4 linked regions of the Homo sapiens genome follow. The protein of the gene in region 4 interacts with the protein of the main gene of each other region in a pairwise test. Each region holds a gene or a part of one and is shown on either strand. Other genes may lie near its edges. The genes, in order: NRG1, NAALADL2, ISLR2 and LAPTM4B.

What was found.
Region 1: the proteins of LAPTM4B (region 4) and NRG1 interact in binary tests that used the Homo sapiens proteins (3 or more experiments, as listed by UniProt).
Region 2: the proteins of LAPTM4B (region 4) and NAALADL2 interact in binary tests that used the Homo sapiens proteins (3 or more experiments, as listed by UniProt).
Region 3: the proteins of LAPTM4B (region 4) and ISLR2 interact in binary tests that used the Homo sapiens proteins (3 or more experiments, as listed by UniProt).

The regions. Positions count from the first base shown.
Region 1 is NC_000008.11:32,754,015-32,761,922, forward strand, and holds part of NRG1 (pro-neuregulin-1, membrane-bound isoform isoform HRG-alpha proprotein), read left to right. Parts: intron 1-357; coding exon 358-460; intron 461-2,388; coding exon 2,389-2,515; intron 2,516-5,291; coding exon 5,292-5,422; intron 5,423-6,185; coding exon 6,186-6,392; coding exon of another isoform or gene 6,393-6,396; exon of another isoform or gene 6,397-7,908. UniProt on the Homo sapiens protein: Direct ligand for ERBB3 and ERBB4 tyrosine kinase receptors. Concomitantly recruits ERBB1 and ERBB2 coreceptors, resulting in ligand-stimulated tyrosine phosphorylation and activation of the ERBB receptors.
Region 2 is NC_000003.12:175,233,056-175,240,963, forward strand, and holds part of NAALADL2 (inactive N-acetylated-alpha-linked acidic dipeptidase-like protein 2), read left to right. Parts: intron 1-875; coding exon 876-1,149; intron 1,150-2,036; exon of another isoform or gene 2,037-2,754; intron 2,755-7,908. UniProt on the Homo sapiens protein: May be catalytically inactive.
Region 3 is NC_000015.10:74,125,469-74,134,014, forward strand, and holds the start of ISLR2 (immunoglobulin superfamily containing leucine-rich repeat protein 2 precursor), read left to right. Parts: upstream 1-5,117; 5' UTR 5,118-5,153; exon of another isoform or gene 5,154-5,306; intron 5,307-5,347; exon of another isoform or gene 5,348-5,629; intron 5,630-5,738; 5' UTR 5,739-5,848; intron 5,849-7,278; 5' UTR 7,279-7,286; coding exon 7,287-8,546. UniProt on the Homo sapiens protein: Required for axon extension during neural development.
Region 4 is NC_000008.11:97,778,116-97,786,023, forward strand, and holds part of LAPTM4B (lysosomal-associated transmembrane protein 4B), read left to right. Parts: intron 1-7,908. UniProt on the Homo sapiens protein: Required for optimal lysosomal function. Blocks EGF-stimulated EGFR intraluminal sorting and degradation.

The sequences.
Region 1 (7,908 bases), about 65 Mb from region 4:
GAGACTACAAAAAAAAATAAAACTACAGAGTTTTAACCAAATAGTTATTTTATAATTAATGTTTATGATTTCCAATTTACTATCAACTATATATATCTCTATAGCTTATAATTAGAAGTAATTTCTGAGTATAATATTTGTATTGTAAATGGCCCCAGCTGGCTTTTTTATATTTATGTTCAAAGCATAGTGCAGAGCATGTTGTACCTTAGCTATGTGTGTAAACGTAAAGAATTGTCATGTATTTATTTTCTTGTGAACATGGACAATGTCATGCAGCATGCCCACTGTTTGGTTGTAGTCAGTCCTGGCAAGTGGAAGTGACCTGTGATGACATCTGCTCTCATCCCTTTCCAGAGGCGGAGGAGCTGTACCAGAAGAGAGTGCTGACCATAACCGGCATCTGCATCGCCCTCCTTGTGGTCGGCATCATGTGTGTGGTGGCCTACTGCAAAACCAAGTAAACCTTCTTTCTCCATGCCTTTCTCTCTCCTTCATGCAGAGACAGCTTAGATGGCCAGGGCTTTGCAGAATCTGAGCTCCACAGCCTAGTCTTGGGGATAAAAAAAAAAGGAGGGGCAGGGGGAGATTATTTCCTCTGAATAATCCATTTTGAGGATGTCTCCTAAACACAGAAATAGAAAGCTGTTTGCCTATTCATGTAAAGATTTCTGTTCAATGACCACAGCCCCTGAGTGGATAAAGGCCTGGAGGGACAGGCTTGTATGGAAGGTATGTGTGTGGGTGGGACAGAATGAAGGCACCTCATTCTAAAAGGAGAGGGAGGGTACCAGAAGTCCATTTGAGGGCTTTAGTATAATTAAGTTATCCCCAAAAGAAACTAACTTGCACCTAGAAAAACTTCTATGAGTTAGAGACTGACTGCATTCAGGGTGCAGTAGTACCTTCAGTTCAAAGGACTACTGAGAACAAATCCAATTTACACTGAAAATTACGAGATAAAGGAAACCTTTCGTGGTATCTGAAATGCAGTTTTCTGAGTTATAGTGATTATTATTATTATTTTTAAATTCTATCTAATTAGGTTGCCAGTATGAATGCTCTCACAGCCTGAGATGTAAAAAAGGAATCTCAGGGGAGGAAAATGAAGCAAAACTTTCTTTGAAAACATAAGAGAGAAAACATTAGAATAGATTTGGGTTCCCTATGTTTGGTCTTGAAGTTTGGTCCGTATTAACAAATTCAATTACTATGTGACATGGATTCTCTTCACTTTTCTCTCCTACATATAACTTACATTTCAAGCCTAATATGTTAAATTAACAAGGTTTTTGAAAAAATGTTGCTGCACGATACTCTGTTGCCAAACCATCCATGGGAATATTTCATAATCTGAATGTTGCATTGAGGAAGAAAAATAATATGCTTTTATGCCACAAAATCCAAAGCATGGATTGTATTTTGTCAATATCCCATGATTTAGTGTGTTGCCAGAATTAAGGGATAGAGATAAGCCTTCCTGGAGTCGACCTGGTGAGTCTCATTAGATTCCATCTCAATATTCGCTGCCTAATTGCACAAAAAGCGTTACCAGAGTAGGAACATGTTACGATTGTGCCAAAATCCGCTGGCAAAATATGTCCACATTCTCACGCGTATACATGGGATACACTCACAAACATGCTAACTGTGTATATTCAAAACTCAGTTCATTTTCTTAAGAGACCCCAGGAAAAGCTATAAATGAAATCACTCTTATAAATTCTACAGCACATTTTTTTTTTTTAGACAGAATCTGGCTCTTTCACCCAGGCTAGAATGCAGTAGCACAATCTCAGCTCACTGCAACCTCCCCCTCCCTGGTTCAAGTGATGCTCATGCCTCAGCCTCCCGAGTAGCTGGGACGACAGGTGCACGCCACCAGCCCGGCTAATTTTTGTATTTTTTGTAGAGACAGGACTTCTCCATGTTGCCCAGGCTAGTCTCAAACTCTTGGACTCAATTAATTCTCTTGCCTTTGCCTCCGAAAGTGCTAAGCTTACAGGAATGAGCCACCCCACCCAGCCCAGCACAAATTATTATCTAAGACAAATAAGTGTCCATTTGTAAGACTTAGGCAAAGATGGATTGATTAGGAAATTTGTGATTTTAGTCAATTATCAAGTTATTTGTGTTATCCTATTTTTTTCTTGTCTCTCAGTAAAACAGCTAAATTTCCATAAGAATCCCAGGTGGCTTTTAAAATCTGTTTGGTAAGGATGTGTGGTTTCACTTATTCTGGGATACAGTGGACATACTCCCTTCCCTCTTCCTCATCACCAGTCTACTGCCTTGAACTACTCATAGGTGTTGGTAGAATAAAGACTTGGCTCTACTATGAAATGAAAATAATCAAAAAAAAATAAATGCTCCCTTTCTTATGTCCAGGAAACAGCGGAAAAAGCTGCATGACCGTCTTCGGCAGAGCCTTCGGTCTGAACGAAACAATATGATGAACATTGCCAATGGGCCTCACCATCCTAACCCACCCCCCGAGAATGTCCAGCTGGTGAATGTACGTTGACTCTGGCCAGTGGAAAAAACTGAGCCTCTCTCCTTTGTTCAGACGCCTTGAAGTTTATTTTCGAAAGCTCTTAAGCTTTTAGCTGCTGCCATTAATCACCATGGCTTCCAGGAATCCAGGTTTTTGCCAGGAGAAAATAATGGGAACATTTTTAAAAGTGGATTTGGTTACTGTAAAATCAGCACATTTCCTCTTATAAAGTGTTCATTAAGGGGTTGGAATAATAGTGTTGGGTTTGTTCTGCAAGGAGGCCATAGCTGGGGCTTGCGTGGAGAGAGTGGGGAGAAAACAAATTTAATAGTACGATAATCAAAAAGAATGTTTTCATATATAACTTGGAAATACAGGCTACTCCATTCTGTAACTGATTAGTACAGATAACCGAGCAAAGAGCTTTAGAGTTATTTTCTTAGGGCAATTCACAGTGCCTGATGATTTACTGGTTATGATTTCCAAAGGATTCTGATTTCCTTTAGGGCGTGGAAAGGTCAAGTGACTTATCAAACACCCTTCTCAGTAGCAAAAGAAGAGTGTCATGCCAGCTTCTTCCCTGGCCCTTTCTAAATGATGTCAAGCCCTCCAGATGAAATATATCCATAATCATTAAAATATTTTTTTCATACTGTACCAAACACTCAGCATTCAGTTTTTTAAATACAACTAGATCATAGAATATTAGGTTCTGGAGAGTTTGAAGATATTATCTTTCAAATCTCTCTTTTTCTTTTTACAGATAAGGGCCAGAGCCGCACCATCTCTTGGCTTTTGGAGTATTGCTCTTTATATTCCAGCATCATCCTTCTTATTTTCAAATTATTGCTCTGATGTATGGTTTTTTTAATACACAAAGCTTGAAGCTTATATTGTAGTACCATTTTCTATCCTATAGAAAAAGGCATATTTTGAATGGAACAGATATATCATAGACCCAACTACAGAGTTGGTGGTTACTAAACTATCAGCAAGTCTTGTAGCAAAAACCTTCAAAACTTTGTTGGAGCAAGGTGCTTATAGGTTAACACACTCTGTTGCCTTTTCACCCTCTAACAGTGTTCATCACAATGTTCTCCACATTTGATAACGATATTCACTACAAAAGGAACTATAATCTGTCACTCTGCATGTTATAATATATAAACGGTAGAATGACTGCCTAGATTACATTTACTGCTCACATTGTGCATCTTTGGGCTTTAACTTTTCTCAACCTTATTTCTTCAATATAAAAACAGACCTAAAAATAATACCTACTTCAGAGACTCCTTGTGAGCCTTAAATAAGGTAATTTGCATAAAACACTTAGTCTAGTGGCATTTAGTGAGTGTTCAATAATTGTTAAGTATTTTTTTCATTAGATTCACTGAGCTTATGTTGCCTTCCAAAAAGCAATAGTGAAATGGTTCAGGGACTGGAAGTAGGTCACTGTGTATCCTTTCCTTAAATCAAGCTAGCTGTACTTCCCAGGAAGATCCACATGGAATAGCCTTTCCACTAAGAGAACCAGCTAGAGTTTCAAGCATAATTCAAGCTGTATATTTTTGGATCTCCCTGAATATATTTAGAGCCCGCAGACCGTCAGATTATAAAGTGCCTTATTTCATCAAAGAGTATTCCTTTCTATTGGTTTTCCTATTATTTAACTCAATTTGGTATAAATACTAACAGCAATTAAAACACAACTTCAAAAAGGGGCCTCCCTCCCTAATAGAAACAGTAAAAACTACTGTGGTTTGCTGATAAAAATAAAGTAGACTCTGACTAGGCATGGTGGCTCACACCTGTAATGCCAGCACTTTGGGAGGCAGAGGTGGACGGATCACCTGAGGTCAGGAGTTTAAGACCAGCCTGGCCAACATGGTGAAACCCCATCTCTGCTAAAAATACAAAAATTAGCTGGGCATGGTGGCATATGCCTGTAATCCCAACTACTCGGGAGGGTGAGGCAGGAGAATTGCTTGAACCGGGAGGTGGAGGTTGCAGTGAGCTGAGATTGCACCACTGCTCTCCAGCCTGGGCAACAGAGTGAGACTCCATCTCAAAAAAAAAAAAAAAAAAAAAAAAAAAGGAGAAGAAAAGAAAAGAAAGAAAGAAGAGAGAAAAGTAGAATCTACCTGCATTAAATAGAAATGTCCTCCATATATTATGTGCTTTGTCAAGATGTGTGCATTGACAACAATTGTTAAGTCCCTTATCAGTAGCCTTGTTAGCCCTACCACTGCTAACAAGTTAAACATTTCAGTGACATTAGTAGGGCAACATGGGCACTAGGAAATGGAAGGAGAAAGGTAGGCCCAACATATAGAGATTCTGAATATTTTTTTCTAGTGCTTTGAAATTTGAAACTATACAAATCACCTGTCTGCTTCTATTTCAAATAGCATTTAGCCTTCTTCACCTTGCAATACCATGAAACAAATGAATGTTGGATGGATATTTGTATGGAATTCTAGTCATTAATTTAAAATAAAATAGAAGAAATAGGACTTTTGCTGATAAAATGTAGTTGGAATGATGGGCCGTACATTGGATGCACATCCAGAGAGTATTTTTTTTTTTAACTCTATTCATCTAATCTAAAAGCCACAGTAGCCAGGACAGGATTTTCCACCTGGCCATTGGGGAAATGGAATTTATTACAAATCAGCTGTACAAAAATAGATTTGTGTGTTTCTGACAGTGTTAACGTTTTTATTTACATGACAATATTAGTGCTTTGATTGACATGAATCTACGTGAATCTTCAAGTTGTGTCTCTTTGTTTATCCAGCAATACGTATCTAAAAACGTCATCTCCAGTGAGCATATTGTTGAGAGAGAAGCAGAGACATCCTTTTCCACCAGTCACTATACTTCCACAGCCCATCACTCCACTACTGTCACCCAGACTCCTAGCCACAGGTATGAGAATTTAAAAATTCCACGGCTTTTCTCTCAGAATGAATTGTTGCACATTGCCTTTTGATATCCCTGCCTAAGAAAGGAGGCAGTGAAATGGATGGTCTTTGGGCAGCAACAGATTTTGAAAATCAACTGGCTTTGCCCTTAATTCCTGCATAAATTTGAACCTCAATTAGGTAACTCCACAGGGCCGTTGTTTCCCATTCCTGAGATTGTCTTTACTCATGCCCTGCTACTCACCGAATTGCTACACTGGGACAAGTCTGTCTTTGGCTCTGCAAAATACTTAGAAGTCAATTTCTTTCAGTAATTGGATTGCCCTGGGAAATGCACATGAGAATTGGTTAAATAGTGGAACCCTAAATTCTCAAATGCCCTGGTGATCCCCACCTGAGTGCACTTACTCTACCAAGACCAACACTAGATCTCCAAATGTAGCTCATACAAGGAAATGTTTCTTTAATCTAAGCCACTCAAGAACAGAGAGATTATAATTATATACTGAGGAGTGGCATTCGAAAATATTTATTGAATGAGTGGACAAGTGAATATACTGTATCCTTACAAAGCCAATCTGAATCAAGATCCTCTCTATAGCAAATTACCTTTGTGGCGATTCTATTCGGAGACAAGTGATGTTACAGTGAGCTCCGGGTGCATCAGTAGTTTGAAACATTTGTCAGAATCCATTCCTTTCATTTCCATTTTTTTGCATATAATTTTTGCACGAAATATCTGATTGTCTCTCCCATTTCCTCCGCAGCTGGAGCAACGGACACACTGAAAGCATCCTTTCCGAAAGCCACTCTGTAATCGTGATGTCATCCGTAGAAAACAGTAGGCACAGCAGCCCAACTGGGGGCCCAAGAGGACGTCTTAATGGCACAGGAGGCCCTCGTGAATGTAACAGCTTCCTCAGGCATGCCAGAGAAACCCCTGATTCCTACCGAGACTCTCCTCATAGTGAAAGGTAAAACCGAAGGGCAAAGCTACTGCAGAGGAGAAACTCAGTCAGAGAATCCCTGTGAGCACCTGCGGTCTCACCTCAGGAAATCTACTCTAATCAGAATAAGGGGCGGCAGTTACCTGTTCTAGGAGTGCTCCTAGTTGATGAAGTCATCTCTTTGTTTGACGGAACTTATTTCTTCTGAGCTTCTCTCGTCGTCCCAGTGACTGACAGGCAACAGACTCTTAAAGAGCTGGGATGCTTTGATGCGGAAGGTGCAGCACATGGAGTTTCCAGCTCTGGCCATGGGCTCAGACCCACTCGGGGTCTCAGTGTCCTCAGTTGTAACATTAGAGAGATGGCATCAATGCTTGATAAGGACCCTTCTATAATTCCAATTGCCAGTTATCCAAACTCTGATTCGGTGGTCGAGCTGGCCTCGTGTTCTTATCTGCTAACCCTGTCTTACCTTCCAGCCTCAGTTAAGTCAAATCAAGGGCTATGTCATTGCTGAATGTCATGGGGGGCAACTGCTTGCCCTCCACCCTATAGTATCTATTTTATGAAATTCCAAGAAGGGATGAATAAATAAATCTCTTGGATGCTGCGTCTGGCAGTCTTCACGGGTGGTTTTCAAAGCAGATACTGCCTTCAAGATGGCCCTTTATTCCAGAATGTTTTGGCTTTCCTTTGGGGAGATTGGGTTGGGTTGGGGGAGTTATAGCAAAGGTAAAATGAAGAATGGAGGAAAGTAAACAAAGAGATATTAAATAGTAATATTGAATTCATAGATTCTCTTTCTCCATTTTCACCTGAGCTGGAAGATGACCAGTATTTCTAGCCCATCAGTAAGCTGTTACCTGTTCCTATTTGTTTGCAAGTCTGCTGGGTTTTACTTTATTTTATTGTCATCTCAGGCTAATCTTTGACCATTTACTAAAAGGTTTACATAATGTCAAATCCATACTTATGTGGTAGTTACATGGGAGGAGATGACTTTGATAGAGTCTTTCCACTCTTGGACTGGGAAGTTACTTCCAATAAAATAACACATTCTGGGCTTGAAGGCCTGTTGCTTACTTTTGCAAGGGCCTTTCCTTCAAAATGATATTTTAGAACTTTGTGGAATTTATGAAATCAGAGGTAAGCTATTACCTGTTTGTTTGCAAGTCCGCTGAATTTTATTTTATTTTATTTTATTTTATTTTATTTTATTTTATTTTATTTTATTGTCATCTTAGTCTAATCCTTGACCATTTACTAAAAGGTTTACATAATGTCAAATTCATACTTGTGTGGTAGTTCCATGGGTAGGGATGACTTTCATAGACTCTTCCCACTCATGGACTGGGGAGTACTTACAATAAAAAATGACAGGCTGGGCACGGTGGCTCACGCCTCTAATCCCAGCACTTTGGGAGGCTGAGGTGGGTAGATCACGAGGTCAGGAGATCAAGACCATCCTGGCCAACATGGTGAAACCCCATCTCTACTAAAAATACAAAAATTAGCTGGGTATGGTGGTGCTGCCCTGTAGTCC
Region 2 (7,908 bases), on a different chromosome or scaffold from region 4:
ATATACAAAGTACAGAAAGTACAACACAACATTAATTTCCCATTGGTTTGGCAATCTCTGTTTTTGTTTCGGTTTTATTGGAAAACATTGTGCTCATAGCATCATGTAATTTGGCATAAAATTTGTATCTAAACAGCTCTCTCTGTATTATTTTAAATAGCAATAACTATATGTCAATCATATTGTTTTAAATGAAATCACCTTAACTATAACAAAGAAATGTCTCAACTGGAATGACACCTAGATTTTGGAATGGACTTTTAAGTGTATTATGTTGATGTTGATAGAAGGATCAGAACTAATAGAAGATTTAGTTAGCATTAATATCACTCTTCTCTGCAATGCCATAGTGCTGTATTAGTGGGTTTTTTTGTTTTGTTTTGTTTTATTTGTTTGTTTTTCTTTGGAGAGAGTCTCACTCTGTTGACAAAGCTGGTATGCAATAGTTCCATCCTAGCTCACTGCAGCCTCCGACTCCCAGGCTCAAGTGATCATCCCACCTCAGTGTCCCAAGTAGGTGGGACCACAGATGCATACCAGGACATCAGGCTAATTTATTTTTTAATGTTTTGTAGACAGAGGTTGTCGCTATGTTGCCCTGGCTAGTCCTGTGCTTAAGCGATCCTCCCTCCTTAGCATCCTAAAGTTCTGGGATCACAGGCATGAGCTACCACAAGGGCCGTCAGTTCTTAATTTAAGAAACTAATTCATTCCACTTTGTTTTGTGTTTATGTTTCATGTGATAGGGTCCTGTCTCATTCATCTTTCAATATTCCACAACATCTATTAATATTGTTCATATATTGAGCAGTCATATCTCAAAAGAATAAAGTATTCTCCTTTTTAAAAAAGTTTTCTTTTCAAATTTATTTCAGAAATTTGGTACAACTATATAAAAATGAAGATGACATGGAAATTTCAAAGAAGATTAAGACTCAGTGGACCTCTTTGGGCCTAGAAGATGTACAGTTTGTAAATTACTCTGTGCTGCTTGATCTGCCAGGCCCTTCTCCCAGCACTGTGACTCTGAGCAGCAGTGGTCAATGCTTTCATCCTAATGGCCAGCCTTGCAGTGAAGAAGCCAGAAAAGATAGCAGCCAAGACCTGCTCTATTCATATGCAGCCTATTCTGCCAAAGGAACTCTCAAGGTAATATGACCATTTGTCTCTGTCATTTACAGTGAGATGGAATTAGAAAATAACAGCTTTCATCTAAATTGAACTAACTGTCAAGATGCAACATACAAAAGTAACCATTAAATCTTTTCAGTGTGGAAGTGCCAGGAAAGAGAAGGAAGATGTGGCCCTCCTGACCCTTTTCTTGTCATATTTTGAAAGTGAAAACATGTTAGAAAAATTTAATTCAAAGGTGTTGAATGTGTGACTGAGTCATTCACATTTTGCTCTGTCCATATAGTGCAAGTCTATTTCATTCTACAGCTTTGGAGAGGCAAAATTTAATACACTGATATAGAGAAAGGGAAAGAAATGGAGAGGGTTGTGTTTTGAGATTGTGCACACACAAAAGAAATTAAGTGGAAAATTGATATGATTATTAACACATTTAAGATTTGAAACACAGCGCCCCTACTTTCATGATGGAAAACACATGTGATAAGCCAGGTGTGTATTAGTTCTTCACCTTTTCTGGGTCAGCAGATTTATGATGCAGTTTTTTTTTTTGGCATTGTGGTTAAGTGCAAGGCTTCTAGAGCCACATGGACTAGTTTTAAATCTCAGCTCCCCAGTTAACCACTGTTACTTAACCGTTGGGAGGAAACGGGCTGATTTCCTCATCTCTGTATTGGAGTCAATAATAGTTCCAACTCATAAGGTTGTTGTGAGAAAAAATTACAAATATATGTAAATCTAGGAGGACAGAGCATAGCCTATAGTAAGAACAATATACAAGTTAGATATAACAACGTGTAATTGGTCAACAGTTTCCTTTCTATGGACTAGTTTTCTAACTCTATGTAAAAGTGTAATTTTAAAAAATACACTTAGTTTTTTTTTTTTTTCCATCAAACTGTTGATTGCCTCATTTAATACCAATGAAATAATGTTATCTTTCTGACTGTTGTTAATGGCACAAATGTTTCAGAATCTAACTTATTATTAACTTTGATTGATATATGGAATGTTTAAATCATTTAAAATTACTTTGCATAAATATTTGAAATAATAACAGTAAATGCTCGTTCCTAATAGATCTTGGGGGAGTGGGAGGGAGAGGCAGATTTTCTGGCAGTCCAGCATCGTTTCTATTCTGTATATATCACACTTTGACTTTTAGCCAAAGAGCTGCATATAACTATTACCACCTTGAAATGTCTTACCATTAATTAAACTTCAATATAATATTAAATGTCTGCAATATTTCTACTGTAGGACTCATATAATTTGATTGGATTAATATTATGCTCTTTCTGGCAGGTAATAATGGTAACACACCTGTATATTAATAAAAATAGAGGAAGGCAACTGTCACTCTTTCCTTGATTCAGAAGCTTTGGCCTTAAGCCAAGACTCTAAAAGTTACCCCGATATTTTATCTAAAACTCTTTACTCTGTCTAAGCCATACGCATTTTCAACCTCTTCTTTATCCCAGTTGGCTCAGCTCATGTCTTCTCCTAAACAAAAGCATGTCTTAAACACAGAACATTCACAAAAACACCAGGAACTTGAGTGGATCCTTGGAATCTTCCCCATCTCTTTGCTTTTCAATTTCCGCTGGTGAACATTGATTATTCCTTGAAGAAGGAGATACGCAAAACTCATGAAACTACAACTTGTATCCTTATTTCCTTAGCATGGCCCTCTGTAATAACCCGCTGGCCCAGTGGATTGAAGGTAGAATAAGGTTAAATCAACTAATTTATTTAAATAAGTTCCTTAGATACGGGTTCACCACAAAAACCCTCCCTCAATGCCCGTGCACTTTCATATTGTACAGTTTCCACACTGACCAAGGAAAGAGATATCCTATCACTGTGCAGCTTCTCCGAGGCCCTTATGGGAGCATGTATTTGTTGGTCTTACTGTATAATGGGGAGATTCACTGGATCTGGAAAATTAAATTTCTATGACTCCTTTATACTCCGGACTTACTGCATAATAAGGGAAACATGGGAGATGAACCCTTCAATAACAATTTGTTTGCCTTGGTTTAAAAGGAATACTGGCCGGGCACTGTGGCTCATGCCTGTAATAGCAGCACTTTGGGGAGGCCGTAATCCCAGCACATTGGAGGCCGAGGCGGGTGGATCACCTGAGGTTAGGAGTTCGAGACTAGCCTGACCAACACAGTGAAACCCTGTCTCTACTAAAAAAATACAAAAAATTAACCGGGCCCGGTGGCAGGCTCCTGTAATCCCAGCTACTCCTGAGGCTGAGGCAGGAGAATCACTGGAGCCCAGGAGGGGAGGTTGCAGTCAGCCAAGATTGCCCCATTGCACTGCAACCTGGGCAACAAGAGTGAAACTCCTTCTCAAAAAAAAAAAAAAAAAAAGAAGAAAAAGCGGGGGTGGGTATATTAACAGATATTGTATACTTCTAATTTCTGATTCATACTCACTACCAGCAAACTCTCATAATAATGGAGGTGGTGGTGGAGGGAAGAAAGTCAGGGAGAAGGTCATTTGGAAGAATCTGTTGGGCCCTAGAGTTCCACTATTGGGCAAATCCACTTTCCTGTGATATTTGTGCAGATATTGGACACAGAGTATTGTACGTAATTGTATGTTTGCTTTTTATATTTTGTAAAAGTCTAGGCTGAATCACAAAAATGTTAATCATCCCTTTTATTCTAACAGATGATGCTGTAGGATGGATATATAAATATTCTTCGCCCTTTATTTTCTTTATTCTTTCACACTTCTGCAATTAGATAGCCTCACCTTCAAGTGTCCTGCGTTCAAGTAGTGTGTAAGAGTAATAAATGTTTGGCTATGTAGTGTCCATTGTTAGACTCCTTCACACAACTGAATGTCATCTCATTTTTAATGTAAAATAATTTTTTAGTTTAAAATATATGTAATATTACTAATATGTAGAGAGGTTTAATATTTTAAGAAATAAGTTAAAAATGTGAATTTGCAAAATTCTATAGCTTCAACCTTCTTACTTTTAAAAACTGAGCCTATTCCCTTTCTTCTAGATGTTTTTAGGCCACACCAAATTCCAAGCAGCCACTGATTGATTAGTTTATAGGGACCCTATAATTATGATTTGATTAAAATTAAAATATATTCAGGCCTAAAGTATTTTAATATCTTTTTCAAATTTAGCAGTCATTGTTTGTGGAGGCTAAGTTAGCCTCCATAAATTTTACTTGAGCACCATTTTTATTTCCTTGACAATTTCAAATCATCAGACCTTAGAAACTAGAAATGTGAATTCGCAGGATACCGATGGTGTTCTCCACCCCCAGCCTCTCTCCCATTTAGAATTATAAGTTATAAGGGAGTTGTATTCTCAGCATTTTGGTTATATGTTCGATATGTTCGGTAGCTGTCTTTTTAGATCCCTTTAAATGAAACAGTTGTTTTTCTTATCCAAATATATGTGGTTCTTTCCTCTTCTTTATTTTTTTTCTTTTTCACTTACTTTTTCTTGTCAATAGAGGACACAAAAGAAGAAGCCGGTTTACTTAAAAACACTATATTTTAACTTTCAAACTAATGCACGTGTGTATGTATCTATAACAATGGCCTTTTGTGTTGTTTTTCTGGGCATGTTGTATGACAATTTCTATTACAGCATATGGGACAATTGGGATAAGATAGGGTTCAGTAACACTTTCTTGTATGTCTCCATCTTTCACAGTTAAGGCAATGCACGCCTATGTCTAAGGATTTGACTTTGTATTGAAAGAGCCAATTTAAAAATGAAAAACTTAAGAGAACCAACCAGTGGTTTTATCTGTTTACTATCAAAGAGTACTCATTTATTTTTTAAAAAGTTAATTATTTTTTTCATTTTGCTAATGAAACTGGGTGGGGTGTTTTTTTTAAAATATTCCTGTGTAACCATATCTCTGAGAGTTTTCTACATGTTTATCTTAACAGTTTTAAGTTTTTAAATTTCCTTTTGTTTCACATAAAATAAAATCAACCTCTACTGCAGATTTCTGGAGTTATCCAAATATGCATAGTTCTAAGTCCTTATTTAGTATCCTGACACCATTTGTAAGTGTATTAAAACTGCCTTTTTTAAAATAAAGAAGAGTTTAAAAAAACTTTTAAAATGCAGCTGTTAAAAGGGAGAAAATAAAGTTAACTGTAGATGTAGAAATATACTCCATGTTTGAAATATTAGGGCTAAACAAAAGGGATTGTTAAAGGAAACAAAATGCAATACGGATAAACCTTACACCTTGTATTTGAAGAACATAATTTGAGAAATTAATTATGCAAATTAGATAAAGACACTATTTTAAGATTGTATTAATAATGCAAATCTATTATACTAAATACATATTGATTTAAATATCTATATCAAGAAAGCACATGCTATTGATACTCATTTCTTAAAACTCAGATTATATCAGTATTATAATTTTCAAAAGCAATTTCTAGGTGGCTATTATATATGCATATACAATACCTGCACATATTTTATATGCCTGTTTTAGATATATTATTGAAACTCACATGTTCTAATAGATAAGGCGCTGGTGATTTTTCTGTATCACTTTAAATCATTCCCTAATTCAAATCAAGCTTGAGTGGTTGCTGCTAAAGATTCAGGCATGCCTCTTTTTTTGATTTTGAGTACATTGTGTTTGCATGAATTTCTGTCTTGCAGAGCCATTAACAAGTTCTTAAATTATTCTAGTCTGACTGCCAGCAAAGCTTCCCACAACTTTTTGCTTTTGACAAGGTTATTTGCAGAAGAGGAGTGCCCCTTTTCTTGGAAGAGCTGTCATGTCCATTCATCATAGGACCGTTTTGTGTAAGCTTCCAATTTGTGCTTTCTGGTAACCGTCTAAACAGCATTTCTGATATCTGAGATCTACTTCAAAAACCTACTTAGTGCCAGCATGATGGATGGTGTACTTTACAACTTCTTTGTAATTCATCGTGCACTAGAAAGGTGACATAGTTTACCCCATCATAATGACAGGTGGGTCAGTAAAAGGGTCCTAAGGAGAGTTGTCCTGTCAGATGCAAAATACATATTAAAATGGATACATAAATAATTTAGCATGTGTAAGGTTAGCTTCAGGGAATAAACAGTGATTTGTATTTTTCTTAAAAGGTAAATATCAACTATAATATTATCATAAGGTTAAAGACATTGGTGGTGAGTGCTGAAAATGTCTAGTCAATTTTATTAATAGAACATATGGCTTTTATGCAATTTCTATGCAATTATTTCTTTTGTCCTTTGTGAAACACCAGCAGATGTAGAAAAGCAAATCACATATTAATATTTGCTATACATTGGTCAGATTGGTTCTGCCAAGTTGTTGCTGAGCAAGAGATTTTTTTCTTATTTCCATACATTTTATGGATTTTGTATCTTTTCATTCTGTAAAGCTTCATTTTTTTATCTGAAAGATAAGCCAAGTAATGCAGTTTTATGGAGAAACTTATTTTCAAAAACTCACTAACTGTGCAGAAGCTACATTATTATGAAGATATGTGTCACTACCCTATTCTGCAGAGAGCATAGTTCAACAGCCCAGACTAGCATCCTTTCTTAATAGGTGTGCAAATGTGGGGTGGTCAGGTCAATTCTGTACGACTCAGTGTTCTCATCCATATAAGGGGAATAGTAACAGTAACTTTAACGTTTTTTGTGGGGAAGAAATGATATAAACCATGTAAAGCACCTGACAGTTAGTACTCTATCAATGTTAGCTCTTATTGTCCTGTAAAAAGTCGACACATTTAAATGGGAGAAATTAAGAAACTACCAGAACATCAGAACAATATATCAAGATTTGAAAGAACAAACTTTTATTATATTTATCACATTATCTAAATATAATCTTTCTGTCTTCTCTTTAACAAGACAAATACGAATCATTAGGGAAGAAAATGCCTAGGCCAGTATGAATAAAAATAAAATATACATAATGCCCTGATCCTATGTTTAATTAAAAGTGAAAGCTCAAAAAAATTACAAATGAAATGTTTTATTCTTGAATGCAGAACGATTAATCATGTTGAGTTGGACCAGAAAAGCATTGCTTGTCTTTGTGTGTAAAATATCAATATGTAGTGCCTTAACGTATGAAATCTGAGCACTGTATCAAATATTTTCTCAGAAAGTCTCAAAGAGACAAAAATACAAACACTGCATGGAATCCTTGGATAACCTACAATCAGATGCCTATTTTCTCACAGCTGGAAAAACTTGGTCTTTCTCTTTTATTTTGAATATTTTCAAACAAAAGCAAACTTATCAGTGTTATGGCAAAAGGCAGAGCTATATGCATTTGGCTCTGAATGATTGCTGTTATAGATAACAATATCAGTGAGCTAGAGAAGTGGAATGGAACTGTAGTACTTAAACTTTTGTTTTCTGGATGGTAAGATGAAGCTACTGTCTCACCAACACAGAAATGTGAACTTCGAAGTTTTTGTTTGTTTGTTTGTTTGTTTTTTGAGATGGAGTTTCGCTCTTGTTGCCCAGGCTGGAGTGCAATGGCACGATCTCAACTCACTGCAACCTCTGCCTCCCAGGTTCAAGCGATTCTCCTGGCTCAGCCTCCCGAGTAGCTGGGATTACAGGCATGTGCCACCACACCCGGCTAATTTTGTATTTTTAGTGGAGACGGGGTTTCTCCATGTTGGTCAGGCTGGTCTCGAACTGGAACTCCCGACCTCAGGTGATCCACCTGCCTTGGCCTCACAAAGTGCTAGGATTACAGGCATGAGCCACTGTGCCAGGCCCAG
Region 3 (8,546 bases), on a different chromosome or scaffold from region 4:
GGCTCAAATATTCCTTCTATCTTGGCATCCCAAAGTGCTGGGATTACAGGCATGAGCCATCTTGCTCAGCCATGTTCCCCTTTGAATGCAGGAGTATCGCCTCTTCCAGGCAGGAGTTCCTCTTATTCAGTGAGACAAGCACAGACCCAGATAATTACATGAGCTGCCACTGGAAGAGCTGCTGTTAATTTTGATGGCAATAAAAGGCCTTGCCAGTACGTTAAGCTAATTTCATGAAAATGCTGGGAGGAGGGTCATGGGCTGGATCCCAGATTATTAATAATGTCGAGCTTCATTTGAACCATTCAGAAAATTCCTCTCAGTTGCCTCCAGCAAACTGCAACAGGTTGCTACTTTCCTCTGAAATCAACAGTCTTCTCATAGGCAAATGTGGATTTTTTTGTTTTTCCCTAGAAAATAATTAAAGTCACAAAGTCCAATAAATACTTAAACAGAATGTAGTTTTAATTAAAAACCTTCCACCAAGTCTGCAGTTGCGGGTCTCTCTTTGCAAACAGGCATGCTGACAAGCATCAGTCTAAGTATCTGAAACTAGAAACCTTTACAAATAATAATAGTAAATCTGGTTTCTACATATACCCATGGTGTGTGTGTGTGCAAAGGGGGTGGTGGTGGTGAAGAGGTCTGGGGGCAGAGCCAAGGTGCTCCCCTGTGGAGGAGGCAGGACACAAGCCTGTAGGGGTGTGTGCAGCAGAACCTTTTATCAAACTTGTGTCCCACTCTGCAAGGCAATAATAATGGCTAATTCAGCTATTATATAAAAAACGTATCTCAAGTACTGAGCACTAAGTGTCAGGTACTAAGTGCTTTGCGTACATTGATTCATTTAATCCTCAAGGTGACCGAAAAGCATAGGTATTTTTTTTTTTTTTTTTTTTTTTTTGAGACAGAGTCTCGCTCTGTCGCCCAGGCCGGAATGCAGTGGCACTATCTCGGCTCACTGCAACCTCTGCCTCCCGAGATTCTCCTGCCTCAGCCTCCTGAGTAGCTGGGATTACAGGCATGCACCACCACGCCCGGCTAATTTTTGTATTTTTAGCAGAGACGAGGTTTCACCATGTTGGTCAGGCTGGTCTCGAACTCCTGACCTTGTGATCCGCCCGCCTGGGCCTCCCAAAGTGCTGGGATTATTACAGGTGTGAGCCACCGCGCCTGGTCAGTACTCTTATTTATGCCTTTTTTTCTTGAGGCACAGAGAGGTTAAATAGCTTGGCTAAGGACACACAGTCAGTACATAATGGAGTCTGACGCTAGGACCTGCCCGCCTGACGACTACATAGAACCTGTACAAGGAAAGGCCGGAGGAGGGAGTATAAACAGGGCCTGGCTTCCCTGAGGAGTGATCTTTCGACTGGAAATTAGAAAAGGAAAGCAGCTTCTTGAGGGTGTGGGGCTGGAGAGAACATTTGTGTGTGTGTGTGTGTGTGTGTGTGTGTGTGTGTGTGTGTGTGTGTGTGTGTGTGTCTGTGCGCGCAGAAGCTGAAAGATGGGAAGTAGTGAGTGTTCAGGGGCTTCTGACTGGAGGGCAGCCTTGGGGAAGGTCTCCGCAGCCTTAACCGGCTGCTATGCTGGGGATGTTTGATGCCCATCTGGGCCCCGGCTTTCTTATTCTCAGAGGCCCTTCCCACATCTTTAGGCAAGTCCATTAAATCCTCCGCGTGCCACATTAAAATACAAGGGCAAGTACAACTCTGAGTGCAGTTGCAACAGAATCGTTTGCACAATGTCGCATGTCTTAAACATTCAATCAAACATCGATTACTTCCAATTTTGCAGTTTTCTTTGCCCCTGTTAGCGCCAACAGATTTTTTTTTCCAGATCTCAGACATTTATTTTAATAGGCCCCTGACAAAGTCATAAGACTCAGAGAGAAGGGAGAGTGGGAGAGGTGTATAGGAAGGTTTTGTGCCAGGGACTAGTCGCTCAAGAATTAGGAGACGCCCTGGGCACTGGAAACTACGCAGCGCGAAGTAGGGACAGCGCCTGTGTTGTGTAGTGGACCAGAGGTTGCTGATACCTGGGACATAGACTGGGTGGGCACGGGAAGTAAAGCCTCGGGACTTTGGTTAAGCGCGCCCCACTGGCGTATCGCGCCGCGGGACTGCAGAGCCGTGAGCAGCGGTCGCCTTGGTGCAGGGTTCCAGCCACATCTTCCTCGCCCAGCCAGCACCCTCTGCCGTTGACCCGCCTCTGCGCCCGGCAAGCGGCTTCCAGCAGGGGGCGCGCGCGGACCAGGCTTGGGCCCTAGAACAGCGCGGATGGAGTCGCTGGAGCAAGTCCCCAGATCCAACCGGTTTCAACCCTCCCCACCCTCCCGACGCTCCGGGTTCGCGACGTTGAAGTTAAGGGTCGATCCGCAGAAAGCGGCCAGGGGCTCCAGCTCTCCATTCCTGGGTCTGTCTGGGGTCGGCTCCAGCCTGGTTAGAAGCCTTAGTCTGGATTCGGCAGATTCTGAATCTGGGACCCTCTGCGCTAGCGGCTTGGAACCTTGTCACCCTCCCCTCCCCCACCCCTACTTCCACACACCTGATTAGTTGTCTGTTTCTTTAATGATCAAAGACGTGGGCGGCGGCGGGATGAGGTCTTGGTTCCCGGCTCCACAGCCCTCCCTAACTGTCATTATTAACGTTATAAACATTAGACCCGCTTCTGCGCGCCGGACGGCGCCGGACGAGGTGCGCGCAGTCTTCTAGCTGAGCTCGGAGGCAGATCCAGAAGTCGCGGCTCCCACCCCAGGCCTCGGCGGACTCTGCCTGGGGCGACTCGGGCTCCAGCCCTGCCCGGGCGGGCACTGGGCTCTCCAGGGTCGAAGGCAGGGGTAAGGGGCGTCTTTCCCCCAGGGCAGCCTCCGGGAACAAAAGCATTTGCTGTAGAGTGAGCTAGAGCCTCCGGGCCCGCGGGAGTCAGCTCCCGCCCAGGGGTGGTCACCGCGTCCTTAACCACCCCAGGAGCCCCGTCTCCCTGCCGAACTCCTTGGCTTCTGCAACCCTGTCAAGACAGCAAGGAAAGGGGGTCTTCCCTGGTCCTCGGGCCCCGAAGTTTCGGGGTTGCTTATAGGACGGGTTCCTGCAGTCCAGGGAAGCTCTGGGCAGATAGCGAGCCCATTCTCCCTTCCATTACCCAGATTCTGCCTCCCTGCGGAAGGCAAAAAAGAAAGAAAGAAAATAGGTAAAAACCGGCGGAGGGCCTTGAGCCTCCCCGCCTGGCGCCCCTCACTCAGTCCCGAAAAGTCCCCTGGACACGCCATGCCGGACCGGACTCAGCTCCCGCTGCTGGGCCCCTGCCTCCAAATATCCTTCCCAGGCACAGGCTCCCAAGACCGCCCCCTCAGGGTTCCCAACACCCGGACAACTGCCCAAGACGCCGCTCCCCGCCCCCACCCCCACCTTGTTCGGCAGACAAAGAAGGGTGTGCTGGCCCCGCCGTCTGCCTCCTTCTCCCGACCCCACAAGGCCTAGAAACCTCAGGGACTCACCCCGGGCTAGGGACCCAATCCTGGCTGTCCCACCACAGGATCCCCGGCAGGGACGGGTCACAGTGCTCTCACCCCTCGACCATTTTCGAAGACACCTTCCCTGAAAGGCGCCTTGCGCCCTCCCCATGGGTCGGCGGGGGGGGACTCCAGGCCCGAGCAGGCGGTGTGAAGTTCTGTGTTCTGAACTGGGGCTGAGCAAGATGCGATGGTCTCAGCCCGCTGGGCCGCCCGTAGCGACGGCAGGAGTAGGGGAGAGGGAGGGACGCTTGGAGTGTGAGCGCACCAGTCTGTTCATATTTAATTTACAAAGCAGCCTCGGAACCCCGGGCCGGGTGGTCTCTTTAGACGCTGCGCTCTTAGCCTGTCTCTCTTCCCCACCCCCTCCCCTAGCTCATTAAGATGCTCAACACTCAAATCGGGGTATTGATCTCCACGGAAGCCCCAAACCCTCGCCATCGAGAGACCCCCATGGCCCGGGGTGATGGCTGTGGGGCTTGGTGCTCCCAGAGAGCTCAGTGGCTACAGAATGGGTGGGGATTCTGCGTGTCTCCCGGAGCCTGAACCCCTTTCCTGGTTATGGCCGGTAGCTGTCTCCAGGGCTAACGTGGGCAGCGCAGGGGGGCGGAAACCGGGTTTTAGCCAAATGCCTCGACATCGCCGCGCCTCCGCCTCCTCGTCGCTGAAAGAAATGTCGGGGTTTCATCAGAGCTAGGGAGCGACAGTCGGGAACAGCGAGTCTGCCGAAGCCGGCTGTTGTGTGAGGGTGTGAGACGGCGGGGCGGTGAGGGGCCACCGCGGCTTGGGGGATAGTGCGTGTGGGGTTGACCGTGTGTCTGCTTGAGAGGCTGTGAAGATATGGGGGGCAGATATGGGAGAAATGCTCGGGCCTGAAGTCCCCAGCCCACCGTGCTCAAGAGTAGCGGACGTTTTGCCACCATCCTTGTCTGTGCTACTGTCTGCTGCAGCTTCCGTGCCCCGTTCTCCTGGAGCAGGCAAGACCTGGAGTGAGGTGCTTGGGTGCGCTCGAGAGAGCTTCCCCCTGCTCCACCTGTCCCGCGGTGCGCGCAGGCCAACGCGTCGGGCAGTGGGCTTCAAGCGCTGGTTTAGCCACAAAAGACCAGAAGTAAAGAGTTCCGGCTTAAGAGGCTGGGCAGGGCTGCGGTGGGCTGGGGAGGGGGGTGTCCCTTCCCAGCACGCCCTGCAGGGCTGTGCGTTCTGGTGTCGGGTTAGACTAGCAGGCGGGGCGGGGGGGTTGGGGCGGCGGGGCGGGGGAGACTAGGGCTTATATCAGCCCAGATCCAGGCAAAAATGGTAGGGAGGGTGCGGCGCTCTGCTAACACTATCAATTATGCATCATGTTGAACGTGGCTTCGGGGAGGAGGCGGCTAGCAGCGGGGGGTGCGGGAGGGAAGGGTCCGCGCGAGCTCGGCTGCGCGCAGCTCAGCGGGTCCCGCTCGAAGTCTGTCGGTGCCACCGCCTGCATTTGCAAAAAGAGTTTAAAGGCAAAGACACGCCTTCCCCCCCCACTTCAGCCGCGCGCCTTTCCTTCCCCCAAATTCCTCAAAGATGGTTTGTCTCACGTGTTGCAGGGCGTAAAAGCGGCTTGCATTCAATTAGCAGCGAAGCTCGCGGGCGCTGGCGGGACAGGCGCGTGAGGGTGAGTTCGCGTGAATGTGTGTATGCGTGTGCGAGAGGAGAACGGTAAGTGTCCCGGGTGCAGGTGTGCCCGTGAAAATGCGTGTGAATGTAGCAGGGGCTGAACACATTGATGCGATTATTACCTGACCATGGATGATTGTAAACTGTGAAGGTCGGCTATGGGGAGGGTGTGAGGGACTGTGTGCGCGAATGTGTTTGAACGTGGGGTGGGGGAGGTGGTGTGATCAGGGACAGTAACAATGCCAGCGGCTGTGTAAATGTGGGGGTACGTGGGTTATGGGGGTGCAGTAGGCTGCGAAGAGCCCAGCCAGGACAGTGGGCGTGGGATGCCCCTTATGACCGACGTGTCTTGGCCTTGGGGAGGGTCTCCGTGGCTTTAACAAAAGTAGACCAAGCAGGAGGCGGGAGAGGCTATGCGCGTCCCCGCCAGGCCCGGGAGTGCGCAAGGACTTTCTCCAACCTGCAGCCAGAGAGGTGGGGGAAACGGACGCAAAAGGAAAAATTGAAGTGGTACTTTGGGGCCACCAAGTCCCCAAACTTACCTGTCCCTTTCTTTGCCCCCCGCCCCCCGTTTTCCCCACAGCCACAACACATGCGTGTATCTTGCTTGGGCTATCTTCCCTGCTCTGCCACGCCGGGTCTGGAGAAGGGGTTTCAGCCCCAGGACATTTACTGAGAGTCGGCGAATATTGGGTAAGCAATGGGGGCCACCCCACAACCTTGACCCAGGTGGGGTTAGGTCCAGCCTAGGGCACCTGATGGGGTGCGGGGCTGGTGGGGGTGCTGTCTGGCAGGAACCGGGAAGGGAGGGAAGGGACCCTCCCAGAAGAGCAAAGGCAGAGTGAAGGAGCAGGTTCCCAAAGACAAGTTGTGGGAGGGGCTCTGCCAAACCTGACAGGCGCTCCAAATGGGGGCAGGGAGTCTGTGCAAGTTCGTTTGTGTGACCGGGCTTAAGGTGTTATGGGGAGGGGGTCCTTAGGCACCGCAGAGCTGTGGAGAAAGGCGCAGAATCTTTCATCTTCTCCAGCTTCATTAGCTAGTGGCAGCCCCATGACCTGTTGGCTGAGGACGCCTCTGCCCAATGGGAGCCGCCTGAGGGACCTGAGAGGAAGCTCTAGTGACCGCTTTCCCAACACACCTGGTCCAAACATGGGGGAGAACCTCCTTCCCCGTAAGGAAGGTTGGCAGAGCAGCCCTTCTTCTCCCCTCACAGGAGCTGCAGCCCCGGGCAGGTGACTTTGGCCTTAGATGCAGTAGGGCATGGGGATGGGCTTCCCCAGATCCCACATCTCAAGTCGTGCAGTGCAGGTCCTCCTATTGCTTCTCTGCTGGGTTTCGGTCACAGTGGAGGGCTGTATGCACACACAGGCACATGCCTGTGTTCTTGTGGGTGGGTCGGTTCGTGTGAGGACTTGTGTCCTTGTGTCTGTCAATTGTCACAATGGACAGGAAAGCGCTTTGTACCGTGGTGGAAAACACGTACAAATGCTGGTTAAGAGAACAATGAGGTCTGCAGGGTCTATTGTGTCCATGTCTGGGTGCATATGTGTTTGTGAGTTTAGGAAATGTGTTGTGAGCCTCCTAATTGAGCATCAGGTCCTCTAAACCCCTGCAGAAGTTGGCGGTTTGATTATGAAGCCCCGCGTCTGTTTGTATTGTTGTGTGCCTGCATGGGCGTGTGTGCGAGTGCTGTGCGTGGGACAAAGGTTCCAGGGAGGACAGCCAGTCACGGACAAAAATGTCCTTCTTGGGTAGGATCCATTTCACCAGGTTAAACGAAGGCTTAGAAACACAGAGAGGGGTACGTGAGGAGCCCGCTGGAGATGGGCGAGCTGCGGAGCCCACGGAGGGGCCAGCTCCAGCGTGAAGGAAGGAGTAGGAAGAGAAAAAAGGGCGATATACCGGGCCGCTGGAAAAGGAAATTAGGGCCCTGGGAGGGAGCATCCGTTGAACCTCGAGATTTTTATTGACCTTCACTTCAGAGAGGCTCCTGGCCATAGAGGAGGTTACCGGAGCCCTGGAACTAGTGCTAAACGGGCTTGCGGAGGCACAGCTTGATAGGGGAGGTAAGCTGGGGTTCAGTGAGTCACCTTCTTTCTTCTTCACCTGGCTTCCATCTGCAGGAGCCGCGATGTTCCCCCTTCGGGCCCTGTGGTTGGTCTGGGCGCTTCTAGGAGTGGCCGGATCATGCCCGGAGCCGTGCGCCTGCGTGGACAAGTACGCTCACCAGTTCGCGGACTGCGCTTACAAAGAGTTGCGTGAGGTGCCGGAAGGACTGCCTGCCAACGTGACGACGCTTAGTCTGTCCGCGAACAAGATCACTGTGCTGCGGCGCGGGGCCTTCGCCGACGTCACACAGGTCACGTCGCTGTGGCTGGCGCACAATGAGGTGCGCACCGTGGAGCCAGGCGCACTGGCCGTGCTGAGTCAGCTCAAGAACCTCGATCTGAGCCACAACTTCATATCCAGCTTTCCGTGGAGCGACCTGCGCAACCTGAGCGCGCTGCAGCTGCTCAAAATGAACCACAACCGCCTGGGCTCTCTGCCCCGGGACGCACTCGGTGCGCTACCCGACCTGCGTTCCCTGCGCATCAACAACAACCGGCTGCGTACGCTGGCGCCTGGCACCTTCGACGCGCTTAGCGCGCTGTCACACTTGCAACTCTATCACAATCCCTTCCACTGCGGCTGCGGCCTTGTGTGGCTGCAGGCCTGGGCCGCGAGCACCCGGGTGTCCTTACCCGAGCCCGACTCCATTGCTTGTGCCTCGCCTCCCGCGCTGCAGGGGGTGCCGGTGTACCGCCTGCCCGCCCTGCCCTGTGCACCGCCCAGCGTGCATCTGAGTGCCGAGCCACCGCTTGAAGCACCCGGCACCCCACTGCGCGCAGGACTGGCGTTCGTGTTACACTGCATCGCCGACGGCCACCCTACGCCTCGCCTGCAATGGCAACTTCAGATCCCCGGTGGCACCGTAGTCTTAGAGCCACCGGTTCTGAGCGGGGAGGACGACGGGGTTGGGGCGGAGGAAGGAGAGGGAGAAGGAGATGGGGATTTGCTGACGCAGACCCAAGCCCAAACGCCGACTCCAGCACCCGCTTGGCCGGCGCCCCCAGCCACACCGCGCTTCCTGGCCCTCGCAAATGGCTCCCTGTTGGTGCCCCTCCTGAGTGCCAAGGAGGCGGGCGTCTACACTTGCCGTGCACACAATGAGCTGGGCGCCAACTCTACGTCAATACGCGTGGCGGTGGCAGCAACCGGGCCCCCAAAACACGCGCCTGGCGCCGGGGGAGAACCCGACGGACAGGCCCCGACCTCTGAGCGCAAGTCCACAGCCAAGGGCCGGGGCAACAGCGTCCTGCCTTCCAAACCCGAGGGCAAAATCAAAGGCCAA
Region 4 (7,908 bases):
AGTTATTGGTGTGTTTGTCTTAACGTTTGGAAATAAATGGCCTTTTGAAAGGTAATTAGAAAGCTTTCTAGCAGATGTGAATAAAAATGTTGCTTTAGGTAAACCCTATTTCTGGGAAACCTGGCTTAAGTACTGGTAATCTTTATAAATAGTCTTTTGCATTTCACAAGGCAATGTAAGCCTTTTTCTTTTCTTTCTTTTTTTTTTTTAAAGTAGTGATTTTCACTCAGACCTTTGAATATAATTTTGTGATACCCTACCTTGTTTTAACCTGAATTGACTCTCCCTTAGCTAAGAGCCAGACAAGACTCCATCTTGGCTCCTTCACTTGCAGCCCCTTACCCACCCGCTTCCTCAAGGACTTAACTTGTGCAAGCTGACTCCCAGCACATCCAAGAATGCAATTAACTGATAAGATACTGTGGCAAGCTATATCCGCAGTTCCCAGGAATTCGCCCGGTTAATAGTACCCAGAGCCCCCGCGTTTGTGTCCGGTTGATAACACCCAAAGCCCCGCGTCTGTCACCTTGTGATAGATTTAAAGCCCCTGCACCTGGAACTGTTTACTTTCCTGTAACCATTTGTCCTTTTAACTTTTTGCCTACTTTGTTTTAACTAGACTCTCCCCCTCCCCTTTCTGAACAAAAGTATAAAAGAAAATCTAGCCCCTTCTTTAGGGCCAAGAGAATTTTGAGCACTAGCCGTCTCTGGGTCGCCGGCTAATAAAGGACTCCTGAATTCGTCTCAGAGTGTGGTTTCTCTATAAGTTGCTCGGTTACAACAATTTGGTTGTCCAAAACTTTGATTTTCTTGAACTTTTTTAAGAGAGTTTGTGTGGCTAGGGAGCAGGACCACTGTAAAACGAGGCACCTTCCCTGGTTTGTCCTAACCCTTTCTCTCAGCCAGCCATCTGGATGGAATGGAGTCAATTATCAGAAAGTGGAGAGTTAAGAATTAGCCAGGTGTGGTGGCTCACACCTGTAGTCCCAGCTTGAGTCCCAGGAGTTCGAAGCTGCAGTGAGCTGTGATTGCACCCCTACACTCCAGCCTGGGCAACCAGAGTGAGCACTGTCTCTTAACAGAGGCCAAGTGCGGTGGCTCACGCTTGTAATCCCAGCATTTTGGGAGGCTGAGGCGGGCAGATCATTGGAGGTCAGGAGTTCGAGACCAGCCTGACCAACCATGGCCAGTGTGGTAAAACCCCATCTCTACTAAAAGTACAAATTAGGTGCGGTGGTGTAGGCCTATAATCCCAGCTACTTGGGAGACTGAGGCAGGAGAATTGCTTGAACCTGGGAGGCATAGGTTGCAGTGAGCCAAGATTGTGCCACTGCACTCTAGCCTGGGTGACAGTGAGACTCTGTCTCAAAAAAAGAAAAAAAAAGAGAAAGAGGCCTGGTGCAGAGGCTCACGCCTGTAAGCACTTTGGGCGGCCGAGGTAGGCGGATCACTTGAGGTCAGGAGTTCTAGACCAGCCTGGGCAACATGGCAAGATCCCGTCTCTAATAAAAATACAAAAATTATTCGGTCGTGGTGGCATGCGCCTGTAATCCCAGCTACTCAGGAGGCTGAGGCATGAGAATTGCTTGAACTCTGGAGGTGGAAAGTCCAGCCTGGGTGACAGCAAGACTCTTATCTAAAAAAAAAAAAAAAAAAGTTGGGTGTGGGTGGCTCACGCCTATAATCCCAGCACTTTGGGAGGCCGAGGTGAGTGGATCTTGAGGTCAGGAGTTCAAAACCAGTCTGGCCAAGGTGGTGAAACCTCATCTCTACTAAAACTACAAAATTAGTCGGGCGCAGTGGCAGGCACCTGTAATCTCAGCTGCTGGGGAGGCAGAGGCAGGAGAATCCCTTGAACCCAGGTGGCAGAGGTTGCCGTGAGCCGAGATCACGCCACTGCACTCCAGCTTGGGCAACAGAGTGAGACTCTGTCTCAAAAAAAAAAAAAAAAAAGAAAAGTAAAATAAAGAATAATAATAATAAAGCGGAGAGTTTTCAGACAAGGCAGATATTTAAATAAGAGTCCAGGCCGGGTACGGTGGCTCATACCTGTAATCCCAGCACTTTCGGAGACTGAGGCGGGTGGATCACCTGAGGTCAGGAGTTTTGAGACCAGCCTGGCTAACATGATGAAACCCTGTTTCTATTAAAAATATAAAAAATTAGTGGGGCGTGGTGGCACGTGCCTGTAACCCCAGCTACTTGGGAAGCTGAGAGAAGAATCATTTGAACCCAGGAGGCGGAGGTTGCAGTGAGCTGAGATCGTGCGATTGCACTCCAGCTTGGGCAACAAAAGCGAAACTCTGTCTCAAAATAAATAAATAAATAAAACAAAAAGTAAGAGTCCACAATAAGGGCTCATTTAAGTAATTTCCTGTTTTGCAAGATAGGTAAAGTGGATCTTTTTTATATGTTTTCTTATTGTTGATTCCTACCAATACCGTTTACTAAGGCTCCAAGTGTCATGTACTTTACTAGATACTTTGCATAAGGTTAATTTTTACATATTCCTGGTGAGGTAGATTTTCTTATTCCCATTTTACAGATGAGAAAACTGAGGCTTAGAGAACTTTGGTGATTTACTTGAGAGCTTAAAATCCCATGGTTGGTTTATGATCTGAGTGATGTTTTAATCTGTTCTGTTTCCACTGTTTTACTTTTAAAAGTTGTGCATGTGTTTTGGTTTTGTCTTGGAATAATAAAAGTTTTCCTTCAGTCCTGAAGTAAAGTATATTGACTTCAGGTATTTATTATTATTATTACTATTTTTAAAATTCTGGGCCACGCTAACTTTGGGAGACTTCAGGTATTTATTCTAGAGATCATTTTTTGTTTGTCTCTTTTTTTTTCTTTTATTGAGTTGTGATTTATGTACTACAATTTTTTTTTTTTGAGACCGAGTCTCGCTCTGACGCCCAGGCTGGAGTGCAGTGGCGTGATCTCGGCTCACCACAACCTCCGCCTCCTGGGTTCAAGCGATTCTCCTGCTCAGCCTCCTGAGTAGCTGGGATTACAGGTGAGCTCCGGGCTAATTTTTGTATTTTTAGTAGAGATGGGGTTTCCCCATGTTGTTCAGGCTGGTCTTGAACTCCTGACCTTGTGATCCATCCGCCTTGGCCTCCCAAAGTGCTGAGATTACAGGCGTGAGCCACTGTGCCCGGCCTTTTTTTTTTTTTTTTTTTTTGAGGAGTTTTGCTCTTATTGCTCAGGCCGAAGTGCAGTGGTGCAATCTCAGCTCACTGCAACCTTCGCCTCCTGGGTTCAAGTGATTCCTGCCTCAGCCTCCCAAGTAGCTGGTATTACAGGCACCCACCACTGCGCTTGGCTAATTTTTGTTTTCCTAGTAGAGACAGGGTTTCATTATGTTGGCCAGGCTGGTCTTGAACTCCTGACCTCAGGTGATCCGCCCGCCTCGGCCTCCCACAGTGCTGGGATTACAGGCGTGAGCCACCGTGCCCGGCAAAATTCACAGTTAAATGTAGTTTATTGAGTTGACAAATGCCTCTGTAATGTAACCCACATTCCTTGAGAACATTTCCAAACTTTCAGCAAGTTCCCTTGTGCTGTTTCCCAGTTAATCCCTGCCATATCCCCAATCACTGTAGGTAAGTTTTGCTTATTCATGTAAAATGGAATTATGCTGTGTGTACCCTTCTGTATCTAGCTTCTTTCACTTAGCATAACTTCTTTTAGATTCATTCATCTTCTTGGAGTGTTGCTTTTTATTGCTGAGTATTGTTTTTATTGTATTAATATACCACAATTTGTTTATCCATTTGCCAGATATTGGACATTTGGGTTATTTCCAATTTGGGGCTATTATAAATAAAGCTGCACTGAACATTCTTGCACAAGACTTTGGGGACTTTTTTTTTTTTTTTTGAGACAGAGTTTAGCTCTTGTTGCCCAGGCTGGAGTGCAATGGTGCGATCTCGGCTCACCGCAACCTCCGACTCCCAGGTTCAAGCAATTCTCCTGCCTCAGCCTCCCTAGTAGCTGGGATTACAGGCATGCGCCACCACACCTGTTTAATTTTGTATTTTTAGTAGATAACAGGATTTCTCCATGTTGGTCAGGCTGGTCTCGAACTCCCGACCTCTGGTGATCTGCTCCCCTCAGCCTCCCAAAGTGCTGGGATTACAGGCCTGAGCCACCATGCCCAGCTTTTTTTTTTTTTTTTTTTTTTTTTTTGTGACAAGATCTCACTCTATTGCCCAGGCTGGAGTGGCTCAATGCAGCCTTGTCTTCCCTGGCTCAAGCAGCCTTGCCATTTCAGCCTCCCAAGTAGCTGGGACTACAGGCTCACACCACCACTCCACACCACTCCAGGCTTTTGTTTTTGAGACAGAGCCTCACTCTGTTGTCCAGGCTGGAGTGCAGTGGCGCAGTCTCAGCTCACTGCAACGTCTGCCTCCCGGGTTCAAGCGATTCTCCTGCCTCAGTCTCCTGAGTAGCTGGTACTACAGGCATGCGCCACCATCCCTGGCTAATTTTTTATTTTTGGTAGAGACGGGGTTTCACCATGTTGGTCAGGCTTGTCTCGAACTCCTGACCTCCTGATCCACCTGCTTCGGCCTCCCAAAGTGCTGGGATTACGGGCGTGAGCCACCGTCCCCAGCCTTTTTTTTTTTCTGAGACGGAGTCTCGCTCTTGTTGCCCAGGCTGGAGTGCAGTGGTGCAGTCTCGGCTCACTGCAGCCTCCGCCTCTTGGGTTCAAGTGATTCTCCTGCTTCAGCCTCCAAAGTAGCTGGGATTGCAGGCATGCACCACCATACCTGGCTAATTTTGTATTTTATTTATTTATTTATTTATTTATTTATTTATTTATTTATTTTTTAGTAGAGACGGGGTTTCTCCATGTTAGTCAAGCTGGTCTCAAACTCCCGACCTCAGGTGATCTGCCCGCCTTGGCCTCCCAAAGTGTTGGGATTACAAGTGTGAGCCACCGCGCCCGGCCTTTTTTTTTTTTTTTTTTTAAATATCCTTGTTCAGTTATTTTTTAGGAACTTAGACACAGCAAATACATACCAAATGCCTCTGTGCCAGACACTGTTCACAGGGTAGTTAGCCATATATCAGATTATAAAGGATAAAAGAGGTCAGAGTAGCTGCTTCATTGGCTTTATGACCTGGTCTTTCTTTTTAATTTTCTTTCTTTCTTTTTCTTTTGTTTTTTAATTATACTTTAAGTTCTGGGATACAAGTGCAGACCTGGTCTTTCAAAGAATCCACTTGTTCACATAGAAACTCACAGTTTCCTTGTTTACTCAAGTAAAGGAAACCAGAATATCTCACCCAAAATATACCTCTTTGGTATATTTCAAGATAGTATTAGAGAAACTGCAAACAAGAATAGCTCTGAAAAGCTGCTGTTTGTGGAGATTTGCATCTTTAGGGAAAATCTGCATTAGTGAAATAAACAGCCAGGCTTTCTCTGAGCACACCTCCCCACCCCATCCCCCATGTTCAGACCTTGGAAAGATTAACCGAGAGATTGAGAGTCTGACACCTTTGAAGGTCTAATAGAGAAGTTTACCACATACCACAGGCTACCAAGTATCTTTTCTCAAGCCTTCTACCTGTGGGGTCTCATTTGCATAACAAGACCACCTTCCCTAGCCAGGCCTTTCCGTCCCTCCCTCCCATAACCTGTTTTGCCGTGATCTAAACCCCTATTCTTTCTGTAACTTCAGAAAGACATTAAAACTTAAACCATCTGGCCCTTCCTTTGAGTTTTCTTATTTCTGTGACTCCCACGTATGCGTGTGCACGTAATACATTTGTATGCCGTTTCTTGCTGTTGATCTATTATCAGTTTGTTTATTAGACTCAAATGATCAAACCTTCAGAAGTTGTAGAAGGGGGAGAATTTTCTTCACCCCTTCACAAGCCTGATAGATTTTCTTTGTATTCTGAGAAGTTCAACAACTATTGATTTGTCTGAGTACAGGATAGTAAGACCAACATCCTGTATTTGTAGAGTGATTGATAGCTTTCGGTGGGCATTCACATTTGTTCTTATTTAGACCTCAAAGCAACCCTGGGTCACGCATGATAGGTGGTGATATGTTCTTTTAAGATTAATAGCTTCTTTCCAACTGTCAGATTCTGTGACTTGGCCCGTAATTTCAGGATAGAATAACGGACTGATTTGTGGCAATTGTGTCATCTTTATTGCCTGGTGTTTTCCCCACTATGTTAGATTGTAAAAGACTAAATAGTAGGCTAAAGAGTTTGGATTTTATTCTGTAGGCAGTGGGGAACCATTGAAGAATTATGAACAGGAGCGATATGATGAAAGCAGTTTTTTTTGGTTGTTGTTTTTGTTTTGTTTTGTTTTTTGAGACGGAGTCTCGCTCTGTCACCCAGGCTGGAGTGCAGTGGTGGGATCTCCACTCACTGCAAGCTCTGCCTCCCGGGTTCAAGCCATTCTCCTGCCTCAGCCTCTCGAGTAGCTGGGACTACAGGCGCCCACCACCACACCCCGCTGATTTTTTTATTTTTAATAGAGATGAGGTTTCAACGTGGTAGCCAGGATGATCTCAATCTCCTGACTTCGTGATCTGCCCACCTCAGCCTCCCAAAGTGTTGGGATTACAGGCATGAGCCACCACGCCTGGCCAATGAAAGCAGTTTTTAAGTTAGATTAAAATGGCAGGCTGTTTCAGATGGCTGGAAAACCAGGCAGTATGTTATATATAGCTCTCTAGATACAAACTATAGTGGGTATCAGCTCTTAGTGGTATGAATAAGATGGATAGGAATTTTTACCAGTTAGTGAGTGATACAAGTCTCTCTTTCTACCTAGGTTTTCTCCATCTGATTTAAGGAATTGAACAGATTTAGATAGGGAAGGACATTGGATTTTTAAAGTACAGGTTTCCCCTCATCTAATAAAGGATCAAGGGCAGTTCTATAGAACATTGGTTGGTGGAGATTTCAGTGGTATTCAATATCTTTTTAAGCTTTTATCACACTTTTTTTTTTTTTGAGGCAGTTTCATTCTGTCACCCATGATGGAGTGCAGTGGTGCCATCTCGGTTCCCTGCAACCTCCACCTCCCGGGTTCAAGCCCTTCTCTTGCCTCAGCCTCCCGAGTACATGGGATTACAGGCGCAGGCCACCACGCCTGGCTTAATTTAGTAGAGATGGGGTTTCACCATGTTGACCAGGCTGGTCTAGAACTCTTGACCTCAGGTGATCCGCCCGCCTCCCAAAGTGCTGGGATTGCAGGCCTGAGCCTCTTATCACACTTTTATGGTAAATGTTCATTAGAATGTTTTACAGACAAGGTGGCCAATAAATAAAGATTGCTATCAAAACTGTTTATTAATACCAATCACTCTCGGATTCACTTTAAATATATTTAACTTCGACCTAAAAGGAAGAAGCTGAGGCAAAATTAATGTAAGTAGAGAGTTTATTTGGGCCAGGCTTGAGGATTGCAACCCCAGAATATAGACTGACGTTGCCCTGACTGTACACACAGATTAGCAGCAGTTATAAGTGCATTTTTAAAGACTGAAAGGGGGAACAGGGAGTGTACTGATACAAAGTTGTTTGTCAGGAATTGTCCTTGATTTACAGAAACAACATTGGTTCGTGATTGGCTATCCATTGTTGAGCTATGCATTATTAGGTTAATTTGCAGCTGCTTGTGGCAATAGCAATCAGTTTCAACAGTTGAAGACATAGCTCAAAAGGGAGGGGGAGTAGAAAGTGATTGCTGTATCGTTTTAATGTCTCTCTGGGCCTGATAATAAAGACTTGCATCCCTCAGATAAAAGTTATTTTCTCAGTAACTTAGCATAAAGTATTAAGTTAACATGAGTTTTGTCGTACAATGTGTATTATGTTTGAATGAGTAATATATTTGTTTTGTCAATTTAACTTTGAATCTTGGCCCTG